Regions from separate parts of the Homo sapiens genome. Here regions 1 and 3 are each linked to region 2. Evidence: fine-mapped expression QTL. A gene starts in region 2. Each other region holds a variant in brackets. All regions are shown on one strand. Distances are from middle to middle. Region 1 overlaps MRTFB (myocardin related transcription factor B). Region 2 holds the start of MRTFB (myocardin related transcription factor B). Region 3 overlaps MRTFB (myocardin related transcription factor B).

Evidence for each region. PIP is the estimated chance that this variant, and not a neighbour inherited with it, causes the effect. A credible set is the group of variants that fine-mapping cannot tell apart.
Region 1: its variant is the best candidate, but not a certain one, in a credible set for the expression of MRTFB in tibial nerve (GTEx, PIP 0.76).
Region 3: its variant is the best candidate, but not a certain one, in a credible set for the expression of MRTFB in unexposed skin (GTEx, PIP 0.72).

The regions. Positions count from the first base shown.
Region 1 is chr16:14,099,144-14,103,388 of GRCh38, forward strand. The region is part of intron 2 of MRTFB (myocardin related transcription factor B); the gene reads left to right. Among named protein-coding and RNA genes, the nearest start is that of MRTFB, 30 kb to the left of the region's middle. The variant G/A (reference allele first, on the strand shown) is at 2,118.
Region 2 is chr16:14,068,871-14,073,115 of GRCh38, forward strand. MRTFB (myocardin related transcription factor B) reads left to right here and starts at 2,449. Exons shown (of 17, transcript NM_001308142.2): 1 at 2,449-2,495. RefSeq lists silencers at 2,224-2,693, 2,834-2,913.
Region 3 is chr16:14,238,579-14,242,823 of GRCh38, forward strand. It overlaps MRTFB (myocardin related transcription factor B), which reads left to right. Exons shown (of 17, transcript NM_001308142.2): 10 at 1,659-1,906. Among named protein-coding and RNA genes, the nearest start is that of TRT-CGT2-1, 45 kb to the right of the region's middle. The variant C/T (reference allele first, on the strand shown) is at 2,091.

The DNA of each region.
Region 1 (4,245 bases), 30 kb after region 2:
TAGTCAGTTTGGAGAGAATTGACTTCTTAACAACATTAAGTCTGGGTCTTCCAAACCAAGAACATGTTATTTCTCTCAATTTATTTATATTTTTTAAAATTTCTCTAGGCAGTGTTTTTAAAGTAGAGATCTTACACATCTTTTGTCAGATTTATTCTAAATATTTTGTATTTTTTGGTGTTATTAAAATAGTATTTTTTAAATTTTCAATATAAAATTACGTGGGTTTTTTTGGTGGGTTTTTTTTTTTTTTTAAGACAGAGGGTCTGTCACCCAGGCTGGAGTGCAGTGGTGTAATCTCAGCTCACTGCAACCTCCGCCTCCTTGGCTCAAGTGGTCCTCCTAAGAAGCTGGAACCACAGGTGCATACCACCATGTCCGGCTAATTTTTTTGTATTTTTTGTAGAGACAGGGTTTCACCCTGTTGGCCTGACTGGTCAAGTGATCTATCTACCTCGGCCTTCCAAAATGCTAGGATTACAAGTGTGAGTCACCATGCCCAGCCGTATTCTGCATCTTTTCTTTTCTTTTTTTTTTTTTTTGAGACAGAGTCTCACTGTGTCGTCCAGGCTGGAGTGCAGTGGCACGATCTCGGCTCACTGCAGCCTCCGCCTCCTTGGTTCCAGCAATTCTCCTGCCTCAGCCTCCCAGGTAGCTGGGATTACAGGCACACACCACCACGCCCAGCTAATTTTTGTATTTTTAGTAGAGATGGGATTTCACTGTGTTGGCCAGGCTGGTCTCGAACTCCTGACCTCAGGTGAACCCACCTCGGACTCCCAAAGTGCTAGGATTACAGGTGTGAGCTGCTGTGCCCAGCCATTCTGCATCTTTTCTATACTCACTACTAGCTTTTTTTGTAGAGTTTATTGGATTTTCATAATCATGTTATTTTTAAACGAAGACAGTTTTACTTCTTCCTTTCTAATCTGAGTGCCTGTTACTTATTTTTCTTGCCTTATTGAACGAGCAGAACCTCTAGCAGAGCCTGTGTAATGTTGAATAGAAATGTAAAAGTGGACATGCTTGTCTTGTTCCTCATATTAAAGGGAAAACACTAAGTCTTATTATTAAGTGTGATGTTAGCTATAGGTTTATTGTGGACTCCTTTATCAGGTTGAGGATGTTCTCTTCTATTCCTAGTTTGCTGAGAGTTTTTAATCAGGAATGGATGTTGGATTTTGTTAGATATTTTTGAGCATCTATTGAGATAATCATATGGTTGTTATTTTTTAATTCGTTAATAGGGTGAATTGTATTGTGTATCGCATGGTAAACCAGCCTTACATTCCTAGGATAAACCCCATTTGGTCATGTACCTTTTCTTATGTGTTGAATTTAATTTGTTAAAATTTTGTTTAGAATTTTTATATCTCTGCTCATGAGGGACATAAGAGCCTCTTCTAGTGTCTTTGGTTTTGGTATCAAGTTAATGCTGGCCTAATAGAACAAGATGGGGAGGATTTTCTCCTGTTCAATTTTATGAAAGAATTTAGATAGAATTGGTATTACATTTTTCCTTAAACATCTGCTAGAATTCACCAGTGAAGCTATTTGGATCTAATGTTTTCTTTGAGAGATTTTAAACTACAAATTCAATTTTTAAAATAGATCTGTGGTTATTCAGGTTATTTATTTCTTCTTGAGTGAGTTTAGTAGTATCTTTCAAGGAATTTGTCCATTTCATCTAAGTTGTTGAATTTATTGGCTTAAAGTTTTTCATAATATTCCCCTATTAGCATAGAATCTATGATGACGTTGCCTCTCTCACTCCTGATATTGGTAATCTGTGTCTTCTCTCTTTTTTCCTGATCAGTCCAACTGGAGGTTTATCAATTTTATTTACCTTCTCAAAGAACCAGCTTTTGGTTTATTGATTTTTCTCGATTTTTTTGTTTTCTGTTTCATTGATTTTTCTGCTCTTTTCTTCACTGCTTTCTCTTTTCTGCTTACTCTCTCTGTGGGTACACATAATTATGTAGGGTTTTTTTTTTTTTTTGCTAAGTTTTTCTGATTTTAAGGGTAAAGTGTAGTTCATTTCAGATGCTGATTTGAGCTGTTTCCTCTCTAAGACATATAAGATATTGAGGCTCAGAGAAGTTAAGACACAAAGTTAA[G/A]ATATATAGCCTATGTCCTTTTTCTTATAGTGTAATAACTATGGTAGAAGCAAGTAGAGGTGCAGAGGGAATACACAGAATAGTGCTTAGCTTGTGAGGAGTGGCATGAGGAGAGCCCCTTGGAGAAGTTGGTGTCTCAGGTATCGTATTTTGGTGAATTCTATGGATAAATCTATCAGACCAAACCCAAATTATTAGTTCTTAAAGTTTATTTTACATTGACTACACATCTCCTTCTTGGTTGCTGTATTGTGAAAAATGAGTTAGAATATGCCAGGAGTAATTTTGCACACAGCTGATGTTCCTTTGGGTTTGATTGACAAATCTACTTTCAATTTCTATTAACACTGTTTGTGGTGGTCATGGTAACTGTAGCTGTAATAGTTTTGGCAAGTGTTGCTGACAAGATTCTGTTGAAGAGGAGGAAAACTTGGGGGTAGAGTGAGGTGAGATTATTATAAAGATCTACATCAGTATCCCACTGAAAACTTAGGGTCACTTAGTAACAGGTATTTCTCCAATAAACTATTCCTTGTTTAAGACAAGTTCTGAGTTTTTTTAAAAAAGGATTTTCATCATTAAAAAGGCATAGAATTCTATGATTTTTTAAATAAGTGGAGTGAAACCAGCCTAATGTAATAACATCTTCTCAGTGTCCCTATTAGAAAGTTTGAGTTCCTCTCCAATTTAAATCAAGGTACTATATTTAGGTATTTTGAAAAATACATAACAGCTGTTTGCTGAGAGGCACTAATGGGACTGGTGGTCAATTGTAGGGAAGAAACAAAAGGAGAAAAATAGAGGAGTTATTTTCAAATGGCCATGAGGGCAGAGGGTTTGTGTGTATTATTTTAGTTTCTCTTTAAAGAAAAATAAAGTGCAACCTGAGTCTTTTTAAAAAAAAAAAAAGAAATTGTGGTTGAAAGAGCAAGCTGCTCCTTTGATAGTTTGATTTTCAAAGTTAAAACTTAATTTTGTAGAGGAGAAAACAGCAAGTGGGCTAAGCAGCTAGTTTTGTGACAGTGCAAGAACCAGAATCCAGACTCTTGAGTCAGGAAACTGGGTTCTAATCCTGACTCTTAATCACGGGCTTAACGTCGCCTCTTCATTGGTAAAGTGGAGATGATAATGATACCTTTCTTCCAGTTGGGGGTGAAATGACAAAATGTGTTGAGTTATCACTCGTACATGTTTAATATTTTGGGTAGGGAACCATTTTCCCCCCTCTCAAGGACTCAAGAAAATAATTAAGGGTCATATACAGATAAGAAGATATTTACTTTAGAGTTTTTGTGTTTTCTAGAGTAAATTCAACTCACCCACCACATCTACGTTTAGACTTACAGATATTATTTATTCTAATTAAACAAATGCAACTGAATTTCCATGTGTTTATACTTGCTTTAAAAACTGTTAGCTCTTCAGTGTTAAAGATTGGCTCTTTAGTTTCATTTGTTCTCAAACTTTCTGTGTCCAGCAAACAATGCAGTATGTTAAAACATGGTATTATTTCTCTTGTTACATGCCTTGGAGTTTAATAATATTCACATAGTATGTGTGTCTGCCTTTTTCCCTTTCATGGTAGGTACTTTAGAATGTGCAGTTTTCTCTATCTGGGGGCATGCTGTTGCATTAGCTTTAAGGTGAAAGGAGAAGGTGAAGTAGAGCATGTTGAGTGATACAAAGTCTTGGAGTAGAGAGACCATTTGTATATCAGCTCCCTTTGCCAGGAGTGCCCTCTCTTTCTTCCACATCTGCCTCTACTTTACAATCTTATTCTTTGAGACTCAGCTCCAGCACTTACTTCCTCTGGGATCCCTTTGCTGATCCTTGGCCAGTTGTGTTAAAACCCCTCCCTCTGCACACCTCCTTGCTTTCACAGCACTTTGCTCTCATCTAATATTCTTTACCACACTATGTTGTGATGTCTGTTTTCTTGTCTGGCTTCCTTACTTACCTTAAAGTCAGGGAATAGATCTTACTCATCTCCATATCCCAGCACCCAGCAAAACTCCTGATCAAAGGTGCTCAGGGAAATTTTATTGAATAGGAAGCCTTGAGTTCAGCGAATAAAGTTCAGAGAGTGATGAGAATATACAATTTATCCTAACAAGGGTATTTCTTCTTC
Region 2 (4,245 bases):
ACAGTAGAAGAAAGACAAATTCTCTCTTTCTCTTCCGGAGCCAGGACACTATCTTCTCCTGTCCCTCGACACCAGAACTCCAGATTCTCCAGCTTTTTTTTTTTTTTTTTTTTTTTTTTTGAGACAGTCTCACTTGATGCCCAGGCTGGAGTTCAATAATGCAATCTCAGCTCAGTGCAACCTCCTCTTCCCAGGTTCAAGCGATTCTCCTGCCTCAGCCTCCCCAGTAGCTGGGATTACAGGCACCCATCACCACACCTGGCTAATTTTTGTATTTGTAGTAGAGAACGGGGTTTCACCATGTTGGCCAGGCTGGTCTTGAACTCCTGACCTCAGGTGATCCACCTGCGTCAGCCTCCCAAAGTGCTGGGATTACAGGCATGAGCCACTGCGCCCAGCCCAGGTTCTCCAGCTTTGGACTCTAGGACTCGCTCCAGTGGCTCCCAAGTTCTCAGGCCTGTAGCCTCGAACTGAGAGTTACACCATCAGATTCCCTGGTTCTCGGGCCACAACTGCGACTGAGCTATGTCACCAGTTTCCCTGGCTTTCCAGTTTGGAGATGGCACATCGTAGGACTTCTCAGCTGCCATCATACATCCCCTCTTATGAATCTATATAGTTTTTTCTTTTTTAGAGACAGGGTCTCACTCTGTTGTCCAGACTGGAGGGCAGTGGCACAGTCAGAGCTCACTGCAGCCTCGACTCCTGGGCTCAAGAGATCCTCTCACATCAGCCTCCAGAGTAACTGGAACTCCAGGCATGTGCCACCATGCCCAATTCTTTTTATTTTTTGTAGAGACGGGGTCTCACTGTGTTACCCAGGCTGGTCTAAAACTCCTAGGCTCAAGTGATCCTCCTGACTGGACCTCCTAAGGTGCTGGGATTACAGGAATGAGCAACCTTGCCCAGCCTACATCTATCTAGAACCTAGTAGCTGTGTTTCTCTGGAGAACCCTAATACAGGGTTGTTGGGAGGGCTAAATAAATTAATAAATAGACAGCACCTGGAGCAGGGCTCAGCACTTTGTAGCTGCCCAGCAGGTGTGATTTTCCTTCTTCACCCACTTCCTCCATCTGGTGAGTTGAGTGAGGTTGAAACATGCAAGGGCACCCACATGCTCTGGCCTGTACACAGCAATTGGTTCCGGGGAGAGTGGACAGGTTTGGAGCATGGGCAGGCCAGCACTTGCTGACATTGATGTGATTATCAGGTGGGCTGGGTAAGCCCATGCAGACGCTGTTGCAGGTGGAAGGCTACCTAGAACCTCCAGGGCTCCTGATCTTACAGCAGCCGGCCCAGATGAGCTAGCTCATGCTCGCTTGCTTGCAGAACAGGACCTACCTACAAGGTAGTGCTGGGCTCCGGACTCAGACCCAGGTTCAAATCCTATTTCACAATGGAAACAGGCTACTTTCTCCACCTCCAGGATTGCAAGAAGATTGGTATGACCTTGATATGCCCGCAATAAATGTTAGCCCTTCCTCTTTACAAACAATTATTATTTCATTAAGACTTACTCCTGGGAAGAAGTCACACTTTTCTGTGTGCTAACATCATGTACATTCTGATTCTCTGTCCTGTGTGCCATTCCATCATGCTCTCTACCAGCAAAACGCCACCAGTCTAAGGAGGAGACAGAACCGCATAAAAATAGTCACACAGTCTTCAGAGCTGCACAGGGAGTGGCACAGGGGCTTCACAGGCCTTGGGAAGTTTGTAAAGTGAGGGAGAAGCACTTTACTGTCGCCAGCTCCATTGAAAACAGATTGTAGCAAATGACTTCCCAGGAGCTCCTCCTCTCACCTTGGTGAATGTTGGGAGAGAATGAAGACTGCGGCTGAGAGGCAGCGCCTTGAGCCTTGAACGGAAAGAGGGACAGGGCCTGGGGGCTGTCACTGAGGTGCAGAAATGGGTTTTGGGCTGGGCATCAGACAACCCCAGATCCCAACACTGGCTCAGCCAATTCCTGGCTGTGTGACATGGAGCCATTACTGTACTTTCCTTGCCAGGCCTCCATTTTTCCTCTCTCTAGAATGGGGAGGCTGGTAATACCCACTTTGGAGGGCAGTGTGAGGACCGAAGGGGGCTGTTAAGTGCTCGGCGCGCAGCGAGCACTCAGGACGGGTGGCAGCGGTCACCTTTGTCGCCACCGTCCAAGCCTTTGCAGAGGCTCAGGGCCGAGCCCCGGACATGCGCATGCGCACGCGCACCCGGCCGGCCAGGTGAGAAGGAGGCGGCCGCCTCGCACCTGGGCTTTAACCCTTCCCAGTCACGGGAGTGGGCGGAGTGCACGCAGGGACGGAGTCGGGGGCGAGCAGCGAGAGAGGCCGGGCTTGACCCTTGAGGCGGGGTGGGCAGCGTCCGGGGAGCGCGCCGAGCCGCTTCTAGCCTGGGGTCCGCGCGCGCCGCGGGGAGGAGGGGGAGTGCCGAGGGGAGCGAAGTCTCGCGAGATCGCGCGGCGGCGGCGGGAGCGGCGGCGGCGGCGGCCGGGGAGGTGAGCGGCGGGCGGTGGCGGCCGTTGGGGGCTGAGGCCGGGTGAGAGCGGCCGAGACCGAGGGCTGGGTGGGGGAGCGGGCCTGGTGAACATCCCGCGTCCCAGGCAGCCATCCCTGTTCGTCCCCGCAGCAGCTGCGGCGCCGTTTGGTCCGCACCGTCCCCGGGACTCGCGCGGGGCGGGGCGGCCGGGGCCGCGGGCCGGTGCCTCCTTCAACCGGTCCTCGCGCCCGGGCGCGACCCCGGGGCCGCCTCAGTGTCCATCTCGACTGCAGAGTTGGCCCTGCTGACAGTGGCAGCGGCGTTTATGGAGCCTCTGCTGTGTGCCGGGCACTTAAGTTGCGCGCTTGCACGCCGGGGCTGCACAGAGAGGTGGAGCGCCCGGGCCAGAGCCACACTGCGAGGAGGCGGTGGGAGGGGACCGGGACCCCTGCGCCCCCTTCCTCTTCCCACCTCCCACTCCCCTCAGCCCTTTTCTCCTGGGGTCCCGACCAGGCTTCAGAGGGGGTGTCTGGGAGCGCCCTGAAGTTGGATGCAGCTTGGTATATGGGTTTCTTGGGAGAGAGTTTTTCCAGGGCTTTTGTCTCGTTCCTAAAAGGGTCCCCGATCCCCAAGTGGTCAAGAACCATTGTTTGGCCCTGCTTGGAAGCAGAGGTGGGCTGAGAGCAGCGGGCGTGTGCTGGTAGTGGGGTGTCAGGCCCAATGAAGTGGAATATTGGAGCCCAGGGCTTGCCTTAGGCAAAGGAAACTCTTCTCTAAAAGTTCGATTTTTGTTTCAGCACGCGATTCCACTCTTGGGAACAGTGGTTCTCAACCTCGTCAGAATCAAGGTCCCTTCTTCCCCTTTGCAGCAAACATGTATAAAGCCCTCTTTACTACCCTGAAATGAAATTCATAAACAATGTGACCTCCCTACACACATCCTTGAAAAGCAGTATGATGGTTTGATTGAAGCGTAAGGGCGAAATAGAGAACAGTATATGACAGATGTTGCTGTACCATTCACATCTAGGACATACTCTTGTGCTGGAAGACAGTATATACTGGGGTGCTTGTGCCAGCTTCTAATGAGTACATTTGTATTGGTTAAAAAAAATTAGGAGGAGCTATTTCAAACAAGAGCAAGCCTGGGCAATATAGCGAGATCCCACCTGTACAAAAAAAGAAAAAATTAGCGTGGTGTGGTGGCGCACACCTGTAGTCTCAGCTGCTTGGGAGGCTGAGGTGAGGGGATCTCTTGAGCCCAGGAGTTAAAGGCTGCAGTGAGCTGTGATTGCACCACTGCCCTCCAGCCTGGGCTACAGAGTGAGGCCGCTACTTCAGGGAAAGAGCAGAGATACAGACGGAGGTTGGGAAAAACACCTAGGTTGGCATAACCTGTTTCTTGCGAATTAAAGAGAGAAACAACCTAGATTGAACTAGGGATAACATGGCAAGACAAATAACAGACTGTCTCAATAAATACGTAAATATTAGCACAAGCCCTCCATGGATCCATATTTTTAAACTATATTGTAGAATTTTTTGTGTCACACACTCGAAGGGACAATACTGGCTTCCTAACAATTACCATTGGTAATAATTAATAAAATATTAACAAGGTTGAAAATTTTTGGTTCAATATCAGTATCTCACTTGTTTGTATATGCTCAGTATTCTGATACTACAATTGTATGTTAACGGTGTGTGGTGTGAGGAAACGATCGCTAATGTTTAGACAGTTTTCCCTTACTCTATTTAAGCTTCCCTTG
Region 3 (4,245 bases), 170 kb after region 2:
AGGAGATGAGATACCTGGAAGCAATGAAGTCGAGGAACTAAGAGACCAGAATGTTAGAAGGATTGTACATGTGGATATTAAAATCATCAAGAACAGTCACTAAAGTTATGTTGAAGAAAGTAAAGAGCATTGGGATTGTCATATGTGTCGTAGAAGTCAGTAAAGAACTAGGAGGCCAGGTCCTGATGCTCAAGTCTGAAAGCATGAGATGAGATTAACAACCAATCATTTCCAATACATAATTACTTTTTATAAATTCTTATTTACCAGTGTTTAAAAATAGGCTCCTAGTTAATTGGATTATATTATGTCCAGTAGTATGCCGGTAAATGTTTAATAACTGGCTGGGCTCAGAGGGCAGATTATAGCCTTTGCCAATTCCCATGGTGTAAATATTCCCACAGTGGCCAGTTTCAGGCTACCGGTGTGATATTGCTGAATGCACAATTGGGAGAAACAGCACACGTTTGGTTCTCATGAGTAAGAGCTGGCTCCAGCACCCCGCTGGCTATGTCCGTAAACTGTTATGTAAAAATGGCCATAAAAATCTTGTTGCAGAATCATTCTTTTATACCAGGGATTTAAGAATTCATGACATGTCAGATGAAGAGAGAAAGGCACATTTCTAATAAGCATATATGGTATCATCCCAATTATATTAAAACATATCCAAAGGAAGGATATAAACAAGAATGTTAATAGTCACATTCTATGAATGTTAGAATAGCCTAACATTAGAAATGAGACTATTCCTAACCTGCAGAATGCAGTGAGTTTTGTTTTATTCTTCTTTGGTTGCAGTGTCCTAATTCTTTGGATATGAATATAGATAATGTGATCATATCAATAGCTCCATTTAATTGAGTACTTCTCAAAGTCTTTGTATTAAGTTGGGTATGTTCCCTACAGAAGCTTAGCAATACTTTCGTATATTTTCTTTTTTGTTTGTTTGGATGGGTTTTTTTCAGATGACGCTATCTTAGAATCTGAATACTGAAAAGTATAAAGTGATCTGATAACTTAAAAACTGAGAAGACAACAAGACCTCAGGAAAACATCATCTGATTCCTAATCTTGAGATGAGGGATACATGGTCTCACATCCCAGTTTCAAAGGAAAAATGTAGTATTTGAAAAATTTTCAAATTCATGTTCATATCATTCAGTATTTGTTTTTGTATTATATTGCTTAAAGATAGTTTATATTGTTTTCTTCTCATTGGAAGCATTTTTTCATTTTTACATATTCTCCACAGAATTTTTAGGTATTACATGGTTTTGGTGAAGTATACTTAACCTTTTCCCATTGTATATTTAGCATGCAGCTTGTTTTTTACTAGGAGATTGTATGTGTAAGCACTTGGTAGTGTGTTCACACGGGAGACCCAAGGTCAGCGTGCATTGAGTTTGAACAGCTCATGCTGAGCATCTTGCCCATACCCTGAGGGAACAGTGCAGCAGGAGAAAATTTATTGGTCAAAGTTAATATGCAAACGTTTTCATGGCTTTTGAAACGAATTTAGCATATTGCTTTCCAAAGTGGCTGTACCCGTATCTAAGGTACATTTCTTTTTAATTTCAAATCATTTAGTCACGCAGTACAAAAGATTTTATGTGGTGACATCTCTTTAAATGTTATTTTCTTTTTCTCAAAAATAGCAAAGCCATCCCAAGAATCCAAATGACAAACACCGTAGCAAAAAGTGCAAAGATCCCAAACCACGGGTAAAGAAGTTAAAGTACCACCAATACATTCCACCAGATCAGAAGGGTGAGAAGAATGAGCCGCAGATGGACTCTAACTACGCCCGCCTGCTCCAGCAGCAGCAGCTGTTCCTGCAACTGCAGATCCTGAGTCAGCAGAAGCAGCACTACAACTACCAGACCATCCTGCCTGCACCATTCAAGTACGGCGGGGCCCATGCTATCCTCAACGCGGGGTTTTCTGTGGTTTTTTATGAGGAACTATAAGTTACCAAAAGTTGAATGTTGTCATTTATTTGTGCTCAGTAATGATTTTCATTTCTTTGTTATCAGAGCTTATCACACAGTGTCTGAAGTCCACATGGTGAGAGTGGCCTGCATTCCATT[C/T]CAGTTTCTGTCCTCCAAAATAGGTTCTGAATTTTTACAAGTTAGAAATGCCTTTTCACAATTATTCATCCAGATTTGCCTATTATTAGAACACCAAAATAGTACTAGATGCTCTGAGAAAAGCGTAAGTAGTATAATACCTGGCATAAACAGCTAAAAGAAGAGAAGGATGGGCATGAAAGCTGGAGTGGTCAAAGGAAAGCCTGGTGGAAAAGACAGGATCTTTGTATATAGAAGGCTCGAGAAGGGCCTTTCCAGGCACAGGGGAATGCTGTGAGCACTAGTACAGAGGAAGGAATAGAGTAAGTAGTGCCTCTTCATTGGAAGGTGAGAAAAATTGCCTAAACAAAGAATCTGATTAATTTTTAAGTAAAAAGTGGAAGACAAAAATCGAGTACAGCCAATGTCTAAGGGGACTTGAAGCTGGGCAGAAGACCTTACTCAACACAGCAGATAGACAACGGAGTGCTTCAGAGCAGGCTGCTGACGCAGTGAGGCCAAAATATAAGAAAAAACAGCTGGATGCTGGTGTTGAAGGGACGTCTGGAGACAATGAAGAGCTCTGGCAGCAGAGTGAGTGTTTCAGAAGACAGTTAAAGGCCTTGGTGACGAACAACTGCGGAGAAGGAAGGTGTTTTCAAAGTTTGAACCCAACTGTGGGGGACGGAAGGGAGTGAATTCTGACAATTTCTGAAACTGAATTCACAGCAAGACATCAATGGCTAATTTTAATTACGTAATAAAGAAAATTTCTGGATATACATTCCCAATATGCTTTTTCTGGGAAACAGAGATAAAAATGCAAAGATCTTGTCTTCATTTTCCTCACTTTTCATGAAAAAGAAATATTTGCATTTAACTCTAGAAAGAGATGCAAAAGCTCATTATAATGAAAAATTATTAGCCATGATCAGGTTATTCAACTTATGATTATACGACCTGTAGAAACTTCTGCTTTCTACATGTCGCGTAAGCATTCCCTCATAGGTAGCCCCTCTTTTCCCTCTTAAGATTCAAATATCTTGAGGAAGATTAAACCTATTAGTAATTCAGACCTGATTGTGAAGTACTTAAATCTAAAACATCAGGGCATGGAGATGAAGAGAGAAAGAACTTTGTATCCAGTTACTATTTTAAGAGCAGGCAGGCCCGAGTGAGCTATTGACATTGGAAGGGAATCAGGGGATACCAAAGAGAATTGGAAGAGAATCACAGACAAGCTGCTGCTACTTTGCAGCTTTGTCCAGGCCTTAGGGAGGCCTCCTCCACTGCCATCCTCCTTTGGCATTGGGCACCAATAATAATAATAATAATAATAATAATAATAATAATAATAATAATAATGGTAATGATGTCTCACAGTTACTACTTACAATGCGTTGTGCTTAAAACCGTGCATCATCCTCATCCTCGCCTCAAGTCTAGGAGGAATTGCTGTTATTGACCCCATTCCCAGATGAGGACGCTGTTATAAAAAAAAATCCTTTGGGATTTTCACCTTATCTTTGAAACAGTCTTTTCTGTAATGAAAGAATTTGGCTGTGCGACTGGCTTTGTAGATAGGAAGAATCCATCAGAGGTGTGGGCTTGCTGAACTGTTACCAGTTCTTTGTCTTTCCATTAAGGCTTCAATTCCCCTCTCCTCCTCAGACATTCAGCACCTCTACAATAACCAAGCTCACCCAAGAATAGTATCATACAAAAAGACCCAGGATATTAGAAGGAGAAAGAACACTTATTTTTGTGTATTATTTAACCACAAAAAGAATATAAGTCCTGTTCAATTTCCAGATCCTAAAAATGGAGGCCTTGTTTCCTAACGCATTGTTTATATTTATCAAAATTCCATTACAAGAAACTGAATGTGGAAGTCATAGAGTGCCCATAGTGGTGGGAGTTTACCTGAATCATGTAGCCCTTTGCCACCACAAAGGAGCAAGCGCCCAAAGGGACTAGGCTTTAGTCCAGCCCAGCTTGTCTGCACAATGGGAGGTCACTGGAGGTCCCCGAAGGCCACTGCATCCCTCTGAACGCAGGTCTCTCATCTGCCGATCACATTCGTTAGCAACCTCTCTCTTTTTTCTCCCCTCTATTGATTTGGGAGAAAAATAGATTAACATGTTTCTGTTATTTTAAAGATTGAGTAAAATACCAA